Linked DNA regions of Homo sapiens: region 1 is linked to region 2. Evidence: fine-mapped expression QTL. A gene starts in region 2. The other region holds a variant in brackets. All regions are shown on one strand. Distances are between the middles of the regions.

Region 1 (9,458 bases), 37 kb before region 2:
AGTTTGGGTCCTGATCTGTTACTCGCTGTGCACCCTGGGGAAGTCACTCAGTGACCTGCACCCTGGAAGACAAGACAACCAACTGTTGGGGTTCCCGGGTACTGCTGCGGTCACCACTTAGACATCAGCATGGGCACCCAGTAAGCTGGTAATCCCCTCCTTCCCAATCAAGCCCCAGCCACCAAGGCAAAGCTCACTGCTGCTTTATTGGAGGCAACAGCCCCTACTGGAGCCTGTGTCTTAGCGTTCCTGGGGGTCCCAGGGCCAGCCCCGGCCCCCACCCAGCTGCCCTGGCCCTGCCTGGCTCCCAGCCCACTTAGGGGTGAGTGTGATGGGGGGACCAGTGTTCCTGTCCTTGGAGCCCAGGCACAGCTTGGTCCTGGGTTTCTGGGATTGGGACAGGGCAAGTTAGTGTGGGGCAACAGAGTCCCTTCGTCCTCTGGAGCCTGGCGCCTGGTTCAGCCCTAGAACCCAACCTGCTGGATGAGACTGGCTGGGTCCTACGAGATGTCCATCACAGAGGCCCTAGGCAAGCACAGCCTTGCTCCTGCTCACCCTCCCATGTGGGCCCATGTCCGTCTGTGTGGCCTGGGGTCAGGGCCCCTGTGACTGCCTTGGCCTGGCAGCCACATGGACTGCCATCACCTAGGCCCAGTGTAGCCGTAGGGGTGCCGCAGCAGCAGGCTCTGGTGGCTGGGCAGCACGTGGGTGTGGTAGTGCTCCACCATGCTGCCCACACTCACAAACAGGACCTCGCCCTCCAGGTAGAACTTAGAGTCCTGTGGGGGAAGAGAAGGGGGAGCGTCAGCAGGGCCAGGCCACTCTGCGGCTCTAGGCCTCAGTCTCCCCGTCTGTAAAACAAGGCAGCAGCATCAACAGCGGCATCACCAGGCTGGCCCCTGGCTGTCGGTGGTGCCCCCAAGGTGGCCTCCGCATCAGGCCTGTGCTCTCCATGTTCCCACCTCACTTCCCCTCCGTCCTCCATGTCCAGGAGCCTGCACCCAGAGCACTTCAGACAAGGTCAGGAAATGAACCTAGGCCAGGCACGGTGGCCCACGCCTGTAATCCCAGCACTGTGGGAGGCCGAGGTGGGAGGATTGCTTGAGCCCCAGAATTTGAAACCAGCCTGAGAAAGACAGTGAGACCCCTGTCCCCGCAAAAAGAAAAAGACAAGACAAGCAACCCAGGGTCTATGGCTGACCGCCCATCCCCACTAGGGTCAGTGGAGGACAAAGGTAGGCCACGAGAGGAGGGAGGCTGAGCAGGAGGGGTGGGGGGTGAGCGATGGTGGAGGGGAAGGGGAGGGCGGTATCCTGGAGGTGCCAGTCTCAGTCTACCCGCTGCCTATGCCTCATCAGGGAGATTCTGCCCTGCCCCTTGCCAGGCCATGCGGCCAGGGTCCCCGTCCCACTCAGAGCCCTCTCACCTTCTCAAAAATGCGATAGTTCCTCACTTTGTTAGAGGTTTCGTCCCACACAACCAGGACCTACAGGACGGAAGCGGGAGGCTGACGGCTCCCTGAGAAACAGCGGGACCAGCCTCGGGAGACCATGGGCTGGGGATAGGGGGGCAGAACCATCAAGGCTGGGTCCTGTGGCCCTCGGGGGGCGGGGAGGGACTCCAGACCACCTGCACAAGGACAGCGGGGGCGACACTGGCAGCCCTCAGAGAGCCTCTGATGAGCAACAGCTCATAACCACCAATAACCACTCCGACACACCCGGGAGAGCATGGCTCAGTGAGGTCACAACTTCACGCTCGGAGGGACACGGGCAGACCTGGCGTTCCCCTGCCCCATGTGGCCTCCGCCACCCCAGAGCATGAGCCCTACCCCACCCGAGTCCTGGCCCCCACTGGGAGGTGGCCATCATGGCCCCCAATTTGCAGATGGAGATCTATTAGGGAATAGATTGGGGGGTGCTGCTGGGAAGAGAATTCAGCTGAGACACCAAGTAAGAGTCCACAAGGGGAGTGGTTTAGGAACTGTGGAGTCCTGGGCCCACCCACAGCCTGGGTGTGTGGAGAGCCAGAGGGGCCCTGGGGCATCTTCCCCTGGCGCCTACCTTCCCCGACTTGGTAGAGGAGTTCCGGATGCAGTAGAGTCCATCCTGGGGCTCTCCCCGGGGGCTTGTAGCCTTGAACAACCTAAAATAAGACAGTCATATTAGCGGGTGAGTCCTCCTCGGGCAGCTTTCACACGGACCTTCCCGCCCCGCTCCCAAGCCTGGCTTTCTGTCCTCTCGCTGTTGTAGGTCTCAGGAGCTGAGCACGTCGGGCTGCCGTGAGGCTGACAGAAGCAGCCCAGCAGAGCCCTGGCCAGCCAGGGTGCCAGCTGGGCATGGGACAGAGCAGGGAGGTCCACTCCTCTGGTTTCTGCTGCACGCAGGGCCATGAACTTGTGCCAGCAACTCCCCAACACGGAAGCTAGTGAGAGGGACACAGAAGCAGGAAGCCGGGCATGGCGGAGGACCCAGCACACACAGGGCTTTGTGCTGACCTTTCCACTTCGCAGGACTCCGTGGTGTTGACGAAGACCGAGTTGGGCAGTGGCACCTGCAAGAGGCTGACGGTGTCAGTGCCAACGTCGGAGTGATCCACCCGCACCACCACTCCCCGGACGGTGGCCACCCGGTGCCGGGATCCGGGGCTTTACATGGTGCTGTGTCCCCCTAGGCTCCCGGGTTCTCGGGGGGTCCTTGCTCAGGACGGTCTGTGAGGGGCCGCCCTGGCCTATGGCTTTCCCACCACCTGTCCACCTACTGGCCACTGGGACCCAGGCTTGCCGCTCAGCCTTGCCTTCTCATAGTCCTCGTCCGAGTCGTCCCCGCCAGTGTCAGCCTGTGAGGGTTGCCGGGGCTTTTCAAAGGAGAAGCTCCTGAAACTCTGCCCATCGGGGGGTGATCGCCTGGAGGGGCAGGGAGAGGAAGGCAGGACCATTTCACTGTCAGACACGGGGCGGCCACCCTCTGCTCCCCTCCCCACTCCACCCTCTGTGTGAGGACGGCAAGCTGCCTGCTATGGCCCCTGTGACCCTAAAAAGCTCAGGACAACAGAGATCCGGGTAGGGCTCGTGCCGACTGCCCTGGGACAGCAGGAATCGCCCGACACCGGAGTCAGGGGTCAGGGCTGCCATGGATGCTGGCAAGGGAGTCCAGGGTTCCCAAGCTCAGTGTCATCACACCGTCAACAAGTGCTCTGGATGCTCGTGGGGAGGGGAGGTCCGGTCATGGCCAAATCACAGCCCACTCAGAGCCACAGGGGAGTGGACGTGAACTGGATGAACAATGCAGTGTGACCCCAAAGGACGCCCATGGCGTCCCTGCACGCCTCCCTGTGTGGCTAGCCGGTCCTGCTCAGCAAAGCCTCAAAGGCTCTAGGGAGGATTAACGGGCCACGCCAGCATGGGAGGCCAGCCTGTGGGTGAGGCTGAGCCCTGGAACCGCTATCCCCACAGTCATGGAAAAACGTGACTTCCGAACATCTGCATCTCTGCAGCCCTTGGTGAACTAGAACCACGAGTGTGACAAGGGCTGCTCAGAGGCACTTCCACACAGGCAGCAGGCATCTCAGAGGTGTTCGCAGAGCCCTGGGAGAAGGGCACCGTGGGCAAGGGCATTCGGGGGTGCGCGTGCCGGCCAGCACACCCATGCGAAACCTGCCCCTCCAGTTCCTGGACCCTTTGCCTGCCAGGCAAGGCAGGAAGCCCACCTGGGGTCCCAGATGCCTTTGACCACAGCCATTGGCGTAACTCTGTGGGAGTGGGGGACAAACTGGTCTCCTGGCACTTCCCAGAAATAAAGCAGAAAGCATTTCAGCAGGACGCGGTGGCTCACGCCCGTAATCTCTACACTTTGAGAGGCCGAGGCAGGCGGATCACTTGAGACCAGGAGTTCAAGACCAACCTGGCCAACATAGTGAAACCCCTGTCTCTACTAAAAATACAAAAATTAGCCGGGCGTGTTGGCAGGTGCCTGTAGTCCCAGCTACTTGGGAGGCTGAGGCAGGAGAATCACCTGAACCCCGGAGGTGGAGGTTGCAGTGAGCTGAGATCGCACCACTGCACTCCAGCTTGGTTGCCAGCGTGAGACCCTGTCTCAAAAAGAAAAAAAAACAAAGCATTTCCAGCAAGCTTCAGGGCTGAGTCATGGACATGCTCCACGTTCCACCAAGGCGGACTGGAGGCAACCGGGAACCTTCCTACCCTTGCACCTGGTACCCCGTCGTGGGCTAAGAGTGCCAGGGGAGCGAGGTGGGCAGAGTGCCCGTCAGAGGCCAGGCCAGGGTCCCTGTAGCTGGAGGCAGGGCTTGCAGCCGCCACACAAACTCACTGGAGGTGCGGGAGCTGCGGCTTCTCTGGCCTGGGCAGGACTGCGGGCCGCGCCATGGCCTCAGGCACTGGCAGCTTCAGCGCAGGAGGCCGGGGAGCCACGGGGGGCACAAAGAGTCCGGGCATGGCTGCCTCCCTTGGGGGGTCCTCTTCAGCTATCTTCAGGAACTTGGGCTTGTTGGCTGGCACAGGTGGGGGCTCAGATGTGGGTGGTCCTCGGGGGGACAGGTGGAAGGACTTGAGTTTGTCACAGTTTCTGGAGGTGGCAGTGGCCATGATGGCAGCACTGGAAGTGGAGCAGGCCCCGTGGCCAGGGGTCCAGGGCTCCGGGCTGGGGCTGGCACTCTCCCGGAAGCAAGGGGGTTTCCGGAGGCCGGGTGCGGTGGGCATGGTGCTCAGAGGGGGATCGCTCATCCTTCGGGGGGTAGCAGGTACCCTGGGGCAAGGCTCAGCCCGCCTCGGGCACAGTGGGTCCCTCTTGGAGTCCTCAGCAGCCAGGCCAACATCTGGGAGGCCGTGCTTAGGGGGCGGGGGTGGCAGTAGGGGACCGGGGCCCTTGGAGGTAAAGGAGTGGGCCCGGGGCATGTCAGAGAAGGCTGGCTTCCTGGGCGTGGGCACTGGGGGTGGTGGGTAAGCCGGTGGGTGCATCAGGGCATCTGCAGAGCAAAGAGACCCGGGTTGGACCCTGACAGA[G/C]ACTGGGCCAACACTATCCTCTGCTGGCAGTGGTCAGCCAGGCCAACCAGGAGTGCAACCCATGGTAGGCCCACCCCACAGCCTGCCCACCCAGCAGCCCAGCACCCAGCACTCCCATCCTGCCTTCCCCAGGGTCCCAGACCACCCACCACCCCCAGCCTTCCCCATTCATCCTCCCTATGGCAGCCTGTGGACGCTTCCTGAAGCCTAGAGGACACCTGAGGAGCCCATCAGGTTCCCAGAGGTGGAAGGAAGAGAAAGGAAGAGAAGTCAAGAAGGATCTCAGGGCTCGGCTGGAGCGAGAGGGAGGACGGAATTCCCAAGGACAGGGGAGGGGAGCAGCTGGGAGGAAGGTGAAGGCCCGTGTTTGCTCAGAACATATCCAGAAAGCTGGGAGATGCCAGGGGATGCGGGGTCAGGGAATGTGTGCAGAGTTCAAAAATCCAGGCTGGACATGACTCGGAGCGGGCAGCCTGCAGATGACCCAGGCTGTCACCCAGGGAATTCGGGAGAGGAGTGAGGTCTGAGTCCCGGGTATCCCTCATGGGGCCAGCACAGGAGCTGAGGAGAAAGAGGACCCCGGGAGCACGGGGCGCCTGGAGGACGGGCTGGCAAGGAACAGGGCAGGCGCCAGGCTGGTGTGGCTCAGGACTGAGCGCTGGAACTGGGAATGGGGAGGCCACAGGCGTCCTGGACGAGAAATGTCTCGGGGAGAGGATGAAGGGGGTACAGAGGGAGGGTGAGTGGAGCAGTAGCATGCAGGAGCACTGGTGGCTCCCCAGGCCCATCTCTAGCCTCACTGGGCTGCAGCTCAGGGCTGGGCAGACGGAGTCTGAGTTCACCAAGGCTTGGCCAGCCAGGCTAAGACGGAAGGCAGTAGTGTGTGGGCGAAGGGACAGGCATGGTGAACACTGTGAGACAAGAGCTCTGCATGGAAGGAAACTGAGGCAAGCGGCCCGCAGACCCTCGTGGGCTGAAGGACTGTTGGCACTGGGACCCCAGAGGGAAGGAGGGAGGGAGCGGCAGGAGAAGAGGGGCTGGACCCGGGAGCCTGAAGGTGGGAGTGGATGGGAGGCAGAGAGGATACGGGGTCAGGGGCTGGGGTCGGCAGAGGCCAAGTCAGTGAGAACAGGAGGCTGGAAAACAAGGAGGCAGGGCGGACGCAGGGAAAATGGAAGGATCAAGGATCAGCCCCAGACATGAGGAAATTGACAAGATGAGGGGGCTGGAGAGACAATAGGGAGGGAGGAAGGGAGGGAGGCGACAGAGGAGGACAGAGACACGTCCTCCCCACCCAGCTCGTGCTTCCGTCATCCACGTGTGACCACCTGTATCAGCCTGTCTCTTTGACTAGGCCATGTGCTGCAGGAGGTAGGTGGACACTGGGATGGGATGGGGTGGGGTGGGACAACGACCTGGCCTGCAGCAGTGTCCACACAAGCTGGCAGCCATGGGGACATGGACCTGCCCTGAGCCTGCGCGCTCCTCAGCGTCCTTCCTTCCCCATGCTTAACCCCCAGGGCCACCCCGGCTCCACCTGCCACTTATCGCCATGTGCCTGTCCCTCCTCCTGGGAGGTGGGAGGAGGAAATGAGCAGAGGTGGCAGCAGCTACACCTCTTCTGCTCCAATCCTCATAATACTTGGGACACAGCAGGGAAGCGGAAGCCACCCAGAGCGGTACCTGGGCCAGCATCCCCAGCCTCGGAGGGGCTCTGCTCCCGGTCCCAGCCCCTGCTTCCTACACACCCAGAGCTCCCCGGGCCCACCCGCCCCACCTACCCTCAAGCCTTCCGGGCTCCGGGGAGTCAGGCTCCAGGTAGGAGTCATCCTCATCGTCGTGCTCATAGTCTGCATGGGGAGAGGGGGGTGGTGAGAGCCAAACCGGCCCAGGCCCAGTCTCCGAGCAATGCTCCATGCATGGGGCTGAGTCCAGGAGGCAAGGGGCAAGCACCTGCTGGGAGGACTGTGAGTCCAGACCCTGCCGCTGAAGGCCAGAGCCCAGGGATGCTACTGCGCACTGCCAAAGGGCCAGAGCAAGGAGCACAGCCGAACACACCTCCCTCTCCTCCACAGCGGCCAAGAGGAGGCCAGGTGGGGAGAGGCAAACGGGCAGTGGATGCGGAGAAAGACCTCACCTTCATTGTCCGTGGGGTACGGGGAAAGGCTGATATCCACAGGCCGCTCAACTGCGCCGTAGAAGCTGTCTGTGTCCGAGCTGGAGTCGCTGCAATGCAGGGTGCGTTGGGGCGGACGGTGAGCACCAGGCCTGGGAGGTCCCTTGATGCTCACACAAAGGTACACACAGGCACACGCGGATACATGGACAGATACACAGATGCACACACGGATACACTGACAAACACATGCACACATGGTTAAGCTGACAGACACACACATGCACACACGGATACGCTGACAGACACACACATGCACACATGGATACGCTGACAGACACACACATGCACACATACTCTGACAAACACACAAATGCACACGTGCACACACAAGCACACGCAGGAACACAGGCACACAGGCATGGATATATATACACAAAGACACAGGGACACGCGCAGACATGTAGACACACAGACACAAGGACTCTGTCACACAGACATGGAAGTATACAGATAAACACAGATACAGGACAAGCACACATGTTCACACACAGACGAGCGACACACGGACACGCACACACAAACACAAGCAACACGCGGACATGCACACACACAGAGCAACATGCGGACATGCACACACACACAGAGCAACATGAGGACATGCACACACACAGAGCAACACGTGGACATGCACACACACACAGAGCAACACGCAGACATGCACACACAAACACAGAGCAACACACAGACATGCACACACACACAGAGCAACATGCAGACATGCACACACACACACACAGAGCAACACGCGGACATGCACACACACACAGAGCAACACGCAGACATGCACACACAAACAGCAACACGCGGACATGCACACACACAGAGCAACACGCGGACATGCACACACAAACACAGAGCAACACGTGGACATGCACACACACAGAGCAACACGCGGACATGCACACACAAACACAGAGCAACACGCAGACATGCACACACAAACACAGAGCAACACGTGGACATTGCACACACACACACAGAGCAACACGCGGACATGCACACACACAGAGCAACACGCGGACATGCACACACACGGAGCAACACGCGGACATGCACACACAGTTACAAGGACAGACAGAAGAACTGGAGGCTGTGGTGCCTCCACTAGGTGCCCCTTCTGGCCCACAAGGATGGCCGCCCTGACTGTGCCCACGTCTCCACCTGCTCCTGCCTCAAGAGGGCTTGGGCGACTCTGGGCTGGGCCCGAGGCTGAACAGCTTGGACCAGGGGACGGGAGCCCGGAGTCAGGCAGGGACCTGCAGGGCAGCCTTGGCTGTGCCCAGCCCTCCCTGGGCCTCCTGTCCCCACCTGTGAAAGGACAGGAAGGTTTGTTCCCTCCACATCGTCTCGGGCCAGGAAGTCCCAATCCAGAGAGTATCTGCTGCACGTCGGGCCAGCTCACGGGGGAGGCTGCCAAGGCTCAGACTGCCCAGTGGCGCCCCGCCAGGAGAATCATTCTGGTCTCACTCTGAGTGAGCCAGGGTGGGCGTAGGGGGCTGGGAACCCAAAGTGCCCAGCTGCTGCCATGCCAGGCCTCCCTGGTGGCAGGCGTATAAACACACATGATCCCCTAACAGGAACTACCCATGGCGGCAACACAGAAACAGATGTGACAGATGGGGCTGGAGGTAGACAGGAGCAGAGAGATGCATGCACACCTGTGCATGCTCTGTGTGTGTGTGCATGTCTGTGTGTTGCTCTGTGTTTGTGTGTGCATGTCTGCGTGTTGCTGTGTGTGTGTGCATGTCCACGTGTTGCTGTGTGTGTGTGCATGTCCACGTGTTGCTCTGTGTGTGTGCGCATGTCCACGTGTTGCTCTGTGTGTGTGCATGTCCGCGTGTTGCTTGTGTTTGTGTGTGCGTGTCCGCGTGTCGCTCGTCTGTGTGTGAACATCTGTGCTTGTCCTGTATCTGTGTTTATCTGTAGACAGGAGCAGAGAGACGCAGCCCAGCTGGCACCTCCAGGAAACCTTTAAGGACGGAATTCTATGCCAAGCCCGGGGCTGGGAGGCGGACACCCGGGTCAGGCCCAGGCGCCCCAGGGACCCTCACTGCCCGGTATGCCCTGGGCCCGGGCTCACCTGGTGTCCAAGGGCAGGTCTTTCTTTTCGTGGAAGTGGCCAATCTCCCTGCGCAGCAAGGCCATCCAGCTCTGCAGGTCAGCGGGGCTGTGGTGGGCACGGTGCCACCAGGGTGGGCCCCACCGCACCCCTCCACCTTCACTGCCCTGCCTGCTCTGCTGTGACTCCCAAGGTCAGAG
Region 2 (10,596 bases):
TCCCTGCCCAGGAGTGGGAGGCTGGGAGAGCCGGCACTCCCCTCACCCTTCCTCTGGGACAGGCCCACGTGGGCACCACCAGGGCATGGGCTCTCAGACGCGACCCTGACCTTCCTGAGTTCCCAAGCAGGAGGGGCAGGCGGACAGGTCACCATGGATGGGTCAACATGCATGGTGGCCATAGACCAGGCTGGGGGCTCAGGAAGGCACCCAGCTCAGGGTGGAGTTGGGGGTGGCCAGGGAGGGTACCCTGAGCACCAAGCAGGACAGACACTTATGTCTTCAGCTGAAATTGCTTCTAAGGGAGAGAGTGGCAAGGTGGGCCAGGCAGGTGAGCTGCTACCCATGGGCACCTGCCAGCGGTCCTGCCCTCTGACCTGTGGCCTGTCTGCTCTTGCAGTGCATGCCTAGCCCAGGGCCCAGTACACAGGCACCCAGTGTTGCATGAGTGGGGCCCGGGGCTGGGCAGCAGCCTTCTGAAGGAGGTCCACCACTGCCCCAGAGGCAGAAACCAGGGTGGGTGGTAAAGGCGCACCACTGCCCCAGACTCCCAAGGCTGAGAAAAAGCCAAGGACCGCCCAGCATTCCAGGCTCCCAGAATGACCCCTGATCCCTTCCCACCTTGTCCAGGGGCAGCCAGCAGCAAGGGCCCACCCCTATGCCTAGCTCAGGACAGTGGACAGGGCTGCAGGGCATGGGGACCCAGGACCCTCAAATGCCACAGAAGAGCATCACTAGATTACAACACCCCTGGATCGAGGCTGAAGGAACTCCCCCAAACGGAGCTGCCCATTCACACAGTGTCAAGGGCAGGGAGGCCCTAGCTCGGGCCTGGGGATCTGGCCTCCCATGAGTTAGACCTACTTTCACCCCATTTCACAAGGAGGACGCTGAAGCCCTCAGACGAAGCCTGCTCTGAGCCCAGAACTCAGCTCCCCTCTGGTGCCTGAGAGAAGCTCTGTGCCGCTTCCCTCGGCCCCTGCCTCGCGGCCTCAGCCCCGTGTGCCATGGCACGCACACTGCCTTCTTGAGGCTGTTGCCTGCCAGCCTGGCTGACCCTGGGGTGGGGAGCTGGCCTCCCTCTGCAGGCTTGAGCAGACAGGCACCCTACGCCCCACCCAGCTGCCTGGAGCAGGCTCAGCAGGAGCGCAGTAAACATCTGATTCACAAGGAAGCAGAGGGCACTTCTTGGAATCAGCTCAGCTACAGGGATGGGGGTATGGATACCACGAGGGCGCTCTGCCAACCCCTCAGGGCTCCTCTGATCTCCCCAGGCAACTGCTCCAGGTGGCCGAGCCCACATTCTTCCCAGAGGCCAGCTGACAAAGATGGACCAGATGTGACCGGAATCCATGAAGAAAGGGCCAGTCACCTCAGGGCGTTGGGGCCAGCAGTTCCAGCACGATCTGTGATCGGGGGCCGGGAAACCAAGCAGGGCCTGACCACTCTCATGGCCTTGGAAGTTACAGAGCCTGGGGAGAAGAGAGAAGGTTGGGGGAGGGCACCTTTCTCCCCTCCTGGGAGCCTGCACCACCTCGAACTCCTGTCTGACCCAGGTCTCCACCCGCCCCGAACCTGGGCACGTGCTTCTCTCGCGTCACCCTTGAAGGATGAGTGTAGTCAGGGGCCCGGCACGGAACCCAAATCCAGCAGCGTGGTCCAGAGCCAGGGACTTCTGTCATCCCGTTTTGCAGATCAGGAAACTGAGGGTCAGGAAGTGCAATTCGCCTACAAGGCTCAGGTCTCCTGGCCCGTGGCTGAGGGCCAGTCCCTTGCTCTTGGCACCATCCTGTCTACCCTCCCGTGCACAGGCCAAGGGGTGGTGAGGAGGGTCCAGTGCCCCAGGGAAGGGGGCCAGCCAGTGAGCCTGAAATGCTCCCTACCACCCCCTCTGGGACTTAGGCAGCCCACACGTGGGACTGTCTCCAGCCCCTCGGTGTCCAGACAGGGCCACCAGAAGAATGCAGAGGCCTTCTGGGGAGGAGCCGCCTATCCTGGAGGAAGGATTCCAGGGTCTGCACGGCCCCTTCTCCTTGCCTCCCAGGCCCCTCCATACCCTCACCACACCTGGCATGCAAAGGCCACTCCCGTCAAACTGGTCTCCCACCCTCCCTACCGCCCGCCTTTGGCTTAGTCTGTCTGTACCTGCATGGCTGCCCGCCCGGCTCAGATCCCTCCTCCTGACGGCCCACCCTGTATTCATTGGCCCGAGGGGTGGGAGCCGCTCCACTGCGTCTGGGGTAGGACAGCTCTCACCTTGTGGCAAATTCCCCGTCTTTTCCCCGCCAGCCTGCCCTTCTCCTCACCCACCCAGGCTGCACAGTGATGGCCAAGCCACCCGGTTATTAAAGAACTATATACTCTGCCAGGCGTGGGGGCTCACGCCTGTAATCCCAGCACTTTGGGAGGTGGGCAGATCATGAGGTCAAGAGAGGACAGAGAGTGAGGAGGGCAGAGCCTGCCACACATAGTCACTGACCTGGGGTGTCCCCACAAGGGAGCTTTTGAGGACAGAACGCAGGAAGACCCAGGGGCTGCCCAACACTGGCCACTCCTGATGGACTCAGGCCTTAGTCCAATGTGGGCAGGAACCTGGGAGCCTTGGCCTTTACCCAGGCCTCTCCAGGCCAGTCCCTGCCCCCACCCAAAACAGGACATACAGCGGCCCTGAGGACCAGGGAGAGCACCCTCAGCGACCCACTGTCACTGAATACCAAGCACATGTCACCACCACCACCATCCCCCCTACGGACACTCATAGCCACCCACCAGGTACAAAGTGCTTCACAGCCCTCAGGTCATGGATGAGAAAACGGAGGGGTGGCAGGGGGAAGCCTCCTGGCCATGATCACACAGCTGGAAACTGGTGGCATCTGAGTTCACACCCAAGATCCTGGCTGAGTTTGCGCCCTTCCTCCCTGCCCCTCAGGAACCAAGGCTGGCCATCTCGTCTCTCTGGGCCCCTGGACTTCCCGTCTGTGGGCCTGCTTGTGTGCGTGCATCCCTGGGGGGTGGGGAGCTCCAGCTGACTCAGCACCCTGCTTCCTCTGTCCATGTGGGCAGAAAGGGCCAAGGCAGGCCCAGAGCCTGTCCTCCCTCTGTCTGCCTCTTCAGGCCAGCCTCCTTGGTGGGCTCCCCCATGATCCTGGAGGCCTGGGGACTCCCTGAAAGGCCAGGTCCCCTGTCAGCACCCCTCTCACCAGATGGCCCTGGCTGGCAGTTCCTAGACACGGCTGCCTATCTGTCTTCCTTCTGCCTGCCCCCTCCAGGGTGTGCCTAACGCAGGGCACAGAGCCAGGCAAAGGGAGCCTGGCGGGTGGCAGGGAGAGGGGATAGACAGAATCCTCACTCCCTTGCAGCCCTCGTCCCAGGCCTCCTGTCCTGCCAGGAGTGGAGTGCCTGGAGTGGGGCCCTGAGGTTGGGCTCCAAGAGGGCCCTTCGACGGTGTCTACGTAGAGGAGACAGTGGACAGAGTGGGAAGAACCAGGAGGGGGTGGAGCCCAGCCCCTCCTCTGGTCCCACAGGGCCTGAGCCAGTGAGGGCAGGAGCTTGTCCAGGCTCATGGAGTTGGTGCAGGGCTGACCTGAACCCAGAGGCTTGCTTCGGCAAGGAGGAGGCTGTGGGCCCTGCCTTCAGGCGGTTGTGGAAACAATTCTACACATTGCATCACCGGCCCATGTCACCTGCAAGGCCACACACATGTCATCCAGGCAGGCTGTCCACCCCAGCAGCCCACACGGAGTACCCGCCCCTGGCCACAGCCAATTCGAAGGACTTAAGTGTGGCCACTAGACCAGGAGGCACAGCTGTCCCCAGTGTCAACAGATGAGCAAACTGAGGCACAGAGAGGGGATAGGAGGTGCTCACGGAAAGGAGCACCAGCAGAAGGCTCCCCACAGCAGGGCTCAGGCCCTCAATACCCCCAGGGAGCCGAGGCCCAGAGCAGCGGGAAAGTGCTGGGCTGCAGGGAGGCCAGCGTACAGGTGGAAGGGGCTGTCCCCGCCCCCTAACTCCTCCAGTCCCTCTGCCACCCCTGAGATTCCCTGTTGCCCATGAGAGTCTCAGACGCCCGGCTATCAGTCACTCACACTTCAGTGTGAATCAGCGCCAGTGGGCGGCTTTTCTTGCCCTCCGTGAAGCGCGGCCGCTGCAGAGGGAAGTTTGGATTCCGGGAAGGGCGGAGAGCGAGTGCCCGCCGCAGCCTTTGAGTCTTGTGGGGAGGGTCGCGTAAAGGGGCCCCGCCGCGGGGCCAGAGGGGCGCGAGGGGTGCGAAACAGACGCGTCGCACCGCCTCCCACCCCTGAGCCCCCGGCAAGGGACACCCGGCCCCCGCCCCGAAGCCGCGCTCCCTCGGGCACTGCCCGCCGTGCCCAGGCCCCGTGCGTCCTTTGGCAAGGACACGGAGGCCCCGGGGCCCGGGGGAGGCTGCTGCGCACCCGAGACCCCCGACACCCGCCCATACCTGCCGGGACCCTGAGACTCCCCCGAGACCTGCCAAGACCTGCCGGGACCCCTGAGACTCCCCGGAGACTCCCCCGAGACCCCCGAGACCCGCCGAGACCTGTCGGGACCCCGAGACTCCCCCGAGACCCCCGAGACCCGCCGAGAGCCCCCAGACCGCCAAGGCCCGCCGAGCCCCTTCCAGACGCGGAGACCGCCCCCCCGCGAGACCCCCGAGACCCGCCGAGACCCGCCGCCGAGGCTTACCCGCCGAGCGCTCTCCTGGCCCGCGGGCCCTGGGTCGAGGCGGCGGCTTGACTCGGCCGCCAGGCGCTCCCGCCCGCGGGACCCGCCGCCGCCGCAGCTCCGTCCCGCCCGCGCCCGCCCAGTCCGCCCTCCTCCTGGCCCCGCCCCGGCCCCGCCCCTCCCCGGCGGGTCCCGCAATCCTGGAGGTCCGAGCTGGGCGTGGGGCGGGGCCGGTACCTCAGGGTGGGCGGGGAACTGCACGTGGCCTCCGCGGCCCCGGGACGAGGCCCCTGGGGGGCGAAGACTGGCGTTGTCGCGGGCCTAGACGCCGGGTCCACAGTAGGTGCTTAGTTCTCGCCCGTGAGTGAGGTAGCGTGTCTGTCCCTCCTGCGTGTCCCTCCCAGTGACACCCCAGTGCCCAGCGACCCAGGTGGAAAGGGCGCTGTCCACCCCCCCAGCCCCGTGGTCCTGATCCTGGGCGGCCCCACCCCTGCCCCGTGAGTGCGACTTAGGCCCTGGCCAAGACAGGAGCAGGGGAGGTGGGGGAGGGCTTGCTGGGCACCAGGAAACCTTGTCTTTGTTTCCAAATGTCCTCCAGGGTACTTTTCAGGCACTTCCCAGGGGGACCTCGCCTCTTGGACCAGGTCTGGACTCCGGTGGCCCAGAGGTCGTCTTGGGGCTGGGAGGCACAGGAGACCGGGTGCTTTACACTTGGCCTCCTCTGAGGCTCCCTTTCCTCCACCATCACCCTCTCCCTAAGAGTAGGCCCAGATGCCTTGGTGTAAGGGCAGGGGCGAGAAGAGGAGGGGCTTCCTGGGAGGAAATGGCTTCCCTGGGGAGCTCTCAGGGCCAGGTAGGTGGAGGGAGCCGTGGAGAAAGTGAAGAGGCTGGGGAGACCAAGCTGGGCCTGCAGAGCTTGAGGGCGAGCGGACCCCCCACCAGTGCGGGAGTCAACTGCTTGGGGCGTGGGGGGACTCCTCCCCATGAGGAGTGGGGACTGGACCCCAGGTCCCAGAGCCCAGGAAGCTGTGAGTAGAGGAAGGACAGGATCTTGCTGGGAACCCAAGGGAGCTGGGGGTGGGTGGTGGTGACCTGGCCCTGTCCAGGCAGGCGGCCAAGGTCTGACCCTCTGTACTGAGCACAAGAGGCCAGAGTCCAATGACAGGGGCTGAATTGGCTGCTCCAAATCAGGCAGGGGCAGGGGTGTCCAGGGCTGGCCCTGCAGCAGGTGAAGGACTGGGTTTGGGTCCTACAGGTTGAAATACCTGAGGGCCTCCAGGAGACACAGCCAAACCAAGCGGGTTCTCAGGGTTGCAGCTGGACCGAGTGTGGGCCAAGTCACCGTCCACCTGTCCCAGAGCTGCCCAATAATGGGTCCCAAGCCTCAGAAAGGGGATCCCTGGCTGCAATAGCCCTCCTCCCTGCTGGAGAGACACACTTGGGATCAGAGAGGTTAACTGGGGAGGGGAGTAAGTGGGAGGAGTCAGAAAACTAGGTGGCCAGGCCCTGAGCCCAGGCATAGAGGAAGAGCCAGTGCCTACCAGGAAGTGACCAGGACCAAGGCAGGGCCTCTGGAAGGGAAGGGACAAAGCAGGGGATGGCAGAGGCAGGGGAGGATATGGGAGAGTCTTCAGACAACAGGGCCCCTTTTCCCCATCTGTGAAATGGAGGGGGTCCTCTACTGGGGAGGCGGCAGAAGTGGATGGGGCATGACAGCAGGCAGATACTCACTCTACCTGGCCCAGGGCCACCCCTCACACCGGCGCTGGGGCTGTGACTCTACCCACCTACAGCCTAGCTCTCGGGGCTGAACTTAGACCCCAGTGAGGGAGTAGATGGGTGCTGGCTGGCTGGGGTGCTCACTCTCTGGGGTGCCTGCTCACATCCCCACCTGTAAGTGTCCTGGGCCTGGCTCCCCAGGTCTCAACTCTGCTCATCCCAGCATTGGGTAGCCTGCAACTCTTCTGCCCACCCCCCACTCTGGGCTATTTCACATTTTCCTAGCAGGGAGGAAGAGATAGGAACTACAGCCATTGTGGAAGTGGCTGGGCTCAGCCCCATCCGACGTTCAGTGCTGCCACTGTTAGCACCGCATGGGGCTGCGTCACTCCTGTAAGAGGCCACATGCGGAGGGAGCTCCAGGCTGGGCCAGACTGGTCTAAGGCTCCTGACAAAACACTCATGACCTTGGGGCTGTACATCTTGATGTCCCTGATGTCCAGTTCAGCTAAATAAATGCCTGGCCCCACACCAGACCCCGGGGACCCAAGATGATACAAGGAAGTCCCTACCCTTGTGGCTCACGAGAGGAGCAAATGGACAAATGAGCAGATGCCATTGGGTCACAGCAAGTGTCCTGTTCCCAGGGGACCAGCTGGGGAAAGGGGCAGAGACCGGGAGGGGAGTGGAGCAAAGCCAAACGTCGGTGCGGCCCCGCCAGGGCCTGACTACAGGGCAGGGTGTACAGGGCTGGCCTCAGATGCCAAGCTCAGAGTTGACGGAGCAGGGTCACTGCAGACAGTGTGGACGGACCAGGCGCCTAGAGAATGATCACCCAGAAATGCAAAGCACCTCTGTGCAGGGCACCTCAGCCAAACAGGGGGAACAGGGTGCAGCCTCCACCGTGGGGAGAATCCCACACCTCATATTCCTCCCCTTCTCCCCCCTTACCAGTCCAACCCCAGGGCGTGGGAGGAAGGAACTCCTAGTTGGGGCCTCAGGGCAGCTCCCAGCAGCCCCTCCGAGCAAGAAGCTGCTGGAGGCTGTGGCCAGAGCCTCTGGGCACCCAGGGGTTCCGCTGAGGCTGACAGAGCAGGGATGGGTGAGGAGGATGACCTCGCCTGCTGGGAGGGTATGCAGGGCAGGTGAGCAGAGGTAAGGCGAGGACCCCTGGCCGGCAGGGAGCTGGGGAGCAGACCTCCACAGGGCACATCCGGGGTAGAAGCCCATGGTGATGCCCCAATCACACCCACAGAATAAGGCCAAAGAGAAGGGGGCCGGTCCCCCGCCACACCCATCCCCCGTGTGCCATCGGCCATGCCACTGATTTGGCAGGACCCAGAACAGGCAGAGGCAGCTGCTGTCTGGGGGGTAGGGCAGGACCTGCTGAGGGTGAGGCTGACGGTTAGGATGGCGAGGGCAAGATCTGCCGCTGGTCTACGTGTCACAGGCGTCCCAGCAGGGGGCTTCATGCGCCTGCCAAGTCTCTTTTTCCTTCCCTGGGCCAGCAACCCTGGAGTCGTCCGCACTGATGCCTCTCTGCTCGCCCCACATCCCGTCCGCCCTGAAGGTTCTGTTGGCAAAGCACACCTGGAATCCTGCCTTTCTCAGCCCCTGCCTGCCTCATCCTCCCTCTCCTGCGCTTGCCTGGCAGTGTCCATCATCACACCAGAGGGGTGCAGTCACAGTGTGAGTCAGGTCATGTCACTTCTTCACTCAGAACTTTCTGTAGATCCCACCTCCCCCAAGGCAAATGCCTTCTATCCTTGCATGGGCAGGGCCCAGACCGAGCCTGTGCCACCTGCCTGCTCCCTGAGTTCTCTCTCCATAGCCCCGCTTAGCATTGGCCACACTGGCCTCCTGTCTCCTCCAGCACCGCAGACACATTCCCACCTCAGGGCCTTTGCACTTGCCATTCCTGCCCCTAGATCACCCTTGGCGGGTGTGCCTGGACCCCTCGCTTCCCTTGGTCTGGGCTCTGCTTCCAGGGCACCTGAGTTACAAAATAGACTCCCAGTGCATGATTGGTGAATGAACAGACAAAGGCCTCAAGGGGCAGCCCCAAGGAAGGGGCTAGGTAGGTTTTGTTTTTGTTCTTTTGTTTTGAGATAGGGTCTCACTCTGTTGCCCAGGCTGGAGTGCAGTGGCACTGCAGCCTCAACCTCCTGGGCTCAGGTGAGCCTCCCACCTCAGCTGGGACTATAGGCATGTGCCACCACACCCAACTAATTTTTATTTATTTATATTTTTTATTTTTTTGTAGAAATAGCGTCTCACCATGTTGCCCAGACTGGTCTCGAACTACTGGGCTCAAACGATCCACCCACCTCAGCTCCCAAAGTGCTGGGATTACTGGCATGAGCCACTGTGCCCATCCTAGCCAGGTTTTGGAGCTGCCACCTGGGTCCCGTGTCCAGAGGACCTTGGAAGCATGGACCCTGCCCTCCCACCTGTCCCTGTCCCCAGGAGTGGCCCCACAGTGATACAGTGTACCACCTCACCAGGCCGCCTCGCTAGGAGAGGCAATTCCTGAGTAGGGCCAAGGCCACAGGCTTCCCACCTGCTTCCCTGGGGATAGGAGGGGACAGGTTCCCACCCTACCTCCCCCAATCCCCACTCCCTGGGGGAGGCTGTGTGGAGTCATCCTGCCACACAGTCCAGTCCCCTGGCCACACAGCCCAGCACTGGAGGGAGGGGCAGAGGGGGTGTGGGGGAGGATTGTGGCTCATGGGAAGAGGAGTTTGAGGAGGCAGGCTGGGCCTCACACGCAGGCATCAGTCTGGCTCTGAGGACAGGGCTGGGGGCTGGCATCTCTCCCAGGAGGCTGGGCTGGTGGCAGGCACTCTGGCAGGGAGGGCAGGCTGGACAGGAGTGGCCCCTCCCAGGCTCTGGGCCATCTCTGCATCCCAGGCCAGGCCTGGCTGCCTCACGCCTTGCCCTGGGTGGGATGGGGAATATTTTCTCCTTTACCGAATGAAGGGGAAAGGAGCAGCCTGGGGCTGGAGGGGGAGCAGTGGAGGTTGGGTGGGATGGTAGGACGTGTGTGCTGGTTGAGGGGTGGAAGCATGGAGGCCCGCTCAGGTCTCAGCCAGACCCCACGCCAGAGTGCCCTGCACACTGGCCTCCCCTCTGCCTCCACTGCCCTCCAGCGTCATCCCGGGAAAGCCAGCTCAGTAGCATTACCCCAGGGGACCTCCCCAGACCCCCACAGTCATGCCCAGATGTGCACCTACATCCCACCACACTGCCCAGAACTAGCCTTCCTCACCACCCCATCCCACCCCCTAGGCTGGGGCGCCTTGAGGTCAGGGCTCTTCCAGTGGCTCTGGTCCCCAGGATGGTCCAACACGGGGCCCTGCTCAGAAAACATCCTCAGTGGGTGGCCCCAGCCTGTGGGCTTCTGGCCAGCTGCCCTCAGTGAGCCTGTGGAGGGTGGGGCCCACAGCCAGCTTGCCCACTGCCCCTCGTGCCTGGGACAGGCCTGGCTTCCTGGCCAGCCTGAGAGCTGGTAAAGGCTGACGAAGTCGGCGAAGGCTCTTTGGGGACAGTAGGACTGAGCTGGGCTCCCACAACCTGGGAGGACTCTCCTGGCAGGGGCACAGCGCTAGAGGGCAGAGTGAGGGAAATAGAGCCAGAGTTCACGCCAGGTCAAGGGCCAGCCAGCGCCCCCAGGCCACCAGCACTCCCCAGGAGGGCCTGCCCTGCCTGCCTGGCTGCCACACCTCTAGCCCAGGTCAGCTGCTGGCTCTGTCCTCTGAGGTTTGCTTGAGTCAATTTTCTACATAAAACGAGAGTGTCAGGCAGGTCCCATTAGGAAGCTCTATTTTGTAATACCAGGCCTGTGGGTGGAGGACCCAGGACCCACGCACGCACTGGCTTTTCTATTTTTACATCCAGAGTCGCCTGCTCTCACCCCCAGAGCCCAATTTGGAACTTGAAAGCAGCACATTCTATTCTGGGGCCACTTCCGGCCCCTGTGCCGTGGGAGGTGGGTGTTTGTACACAACAGCGTGCCCCACCCGCCTCCCTCCAAAACACCCCCTCTCCTGTCACCCCCCACCCCCACCACCACCCCCTGCCAGCCACGTGACCTTCAGGAACACACTGAGATCTGGAAGGGGAAGCCCATGTGGGGCTTGGGAAGGGGAAGCTGTGGCCTTCAACAGTGGTGAGGTTCCCACGTCACCCCAA

The links.
Region 1: its variant is fine-mapped to the expression of SH3BP2 in whole blood (TOPMed, PIP above 0.99).

Annotation. Positions count from the first base shown.
Region 1 is chr4:2,825,018-2,834,475 of GRCh38, reverse strand. It overlaps SH3BP2 (SH3 domain binding protein 2), which reads right to left. Exons shown (of 13, transcript NM_001122681.2): 5 at 9,280-9,350; 6 at 7,158-7,246; 7 at 6,802-6,870; 8 at 4,329-4,983; 9 at 2,797-2,905; 10 at 2,498-2,553; 11 at 2,064-2,145; 12 at 1,427-1,486; 13 at 1-779. The coding sequence ends at 642. Among named protein-coding and RNA genes, the nearest start is that of ADD1, 14 kb to the left of the region's middle. RefSeq lists enhancers at 6,755-7,640, 7,641-8,527. The variant G/C (reference allele first, on the strand shown) is at 5,021.
Region 2 is chr4:2,787,250-2,797,845 of GRCh38, reverse strand. It overlaps SH3BP2 (SH3 domain binding protein 2), which reads right to left and starts at 4,761. Exons shown (of 13, transcript NM_001122681.2): 1 at 4,708-4,761. RefSeq lists a silencer at 4,694-5,043 and enhancers at 9,688-9,747, 9,330-9,964, 10,088-10,397.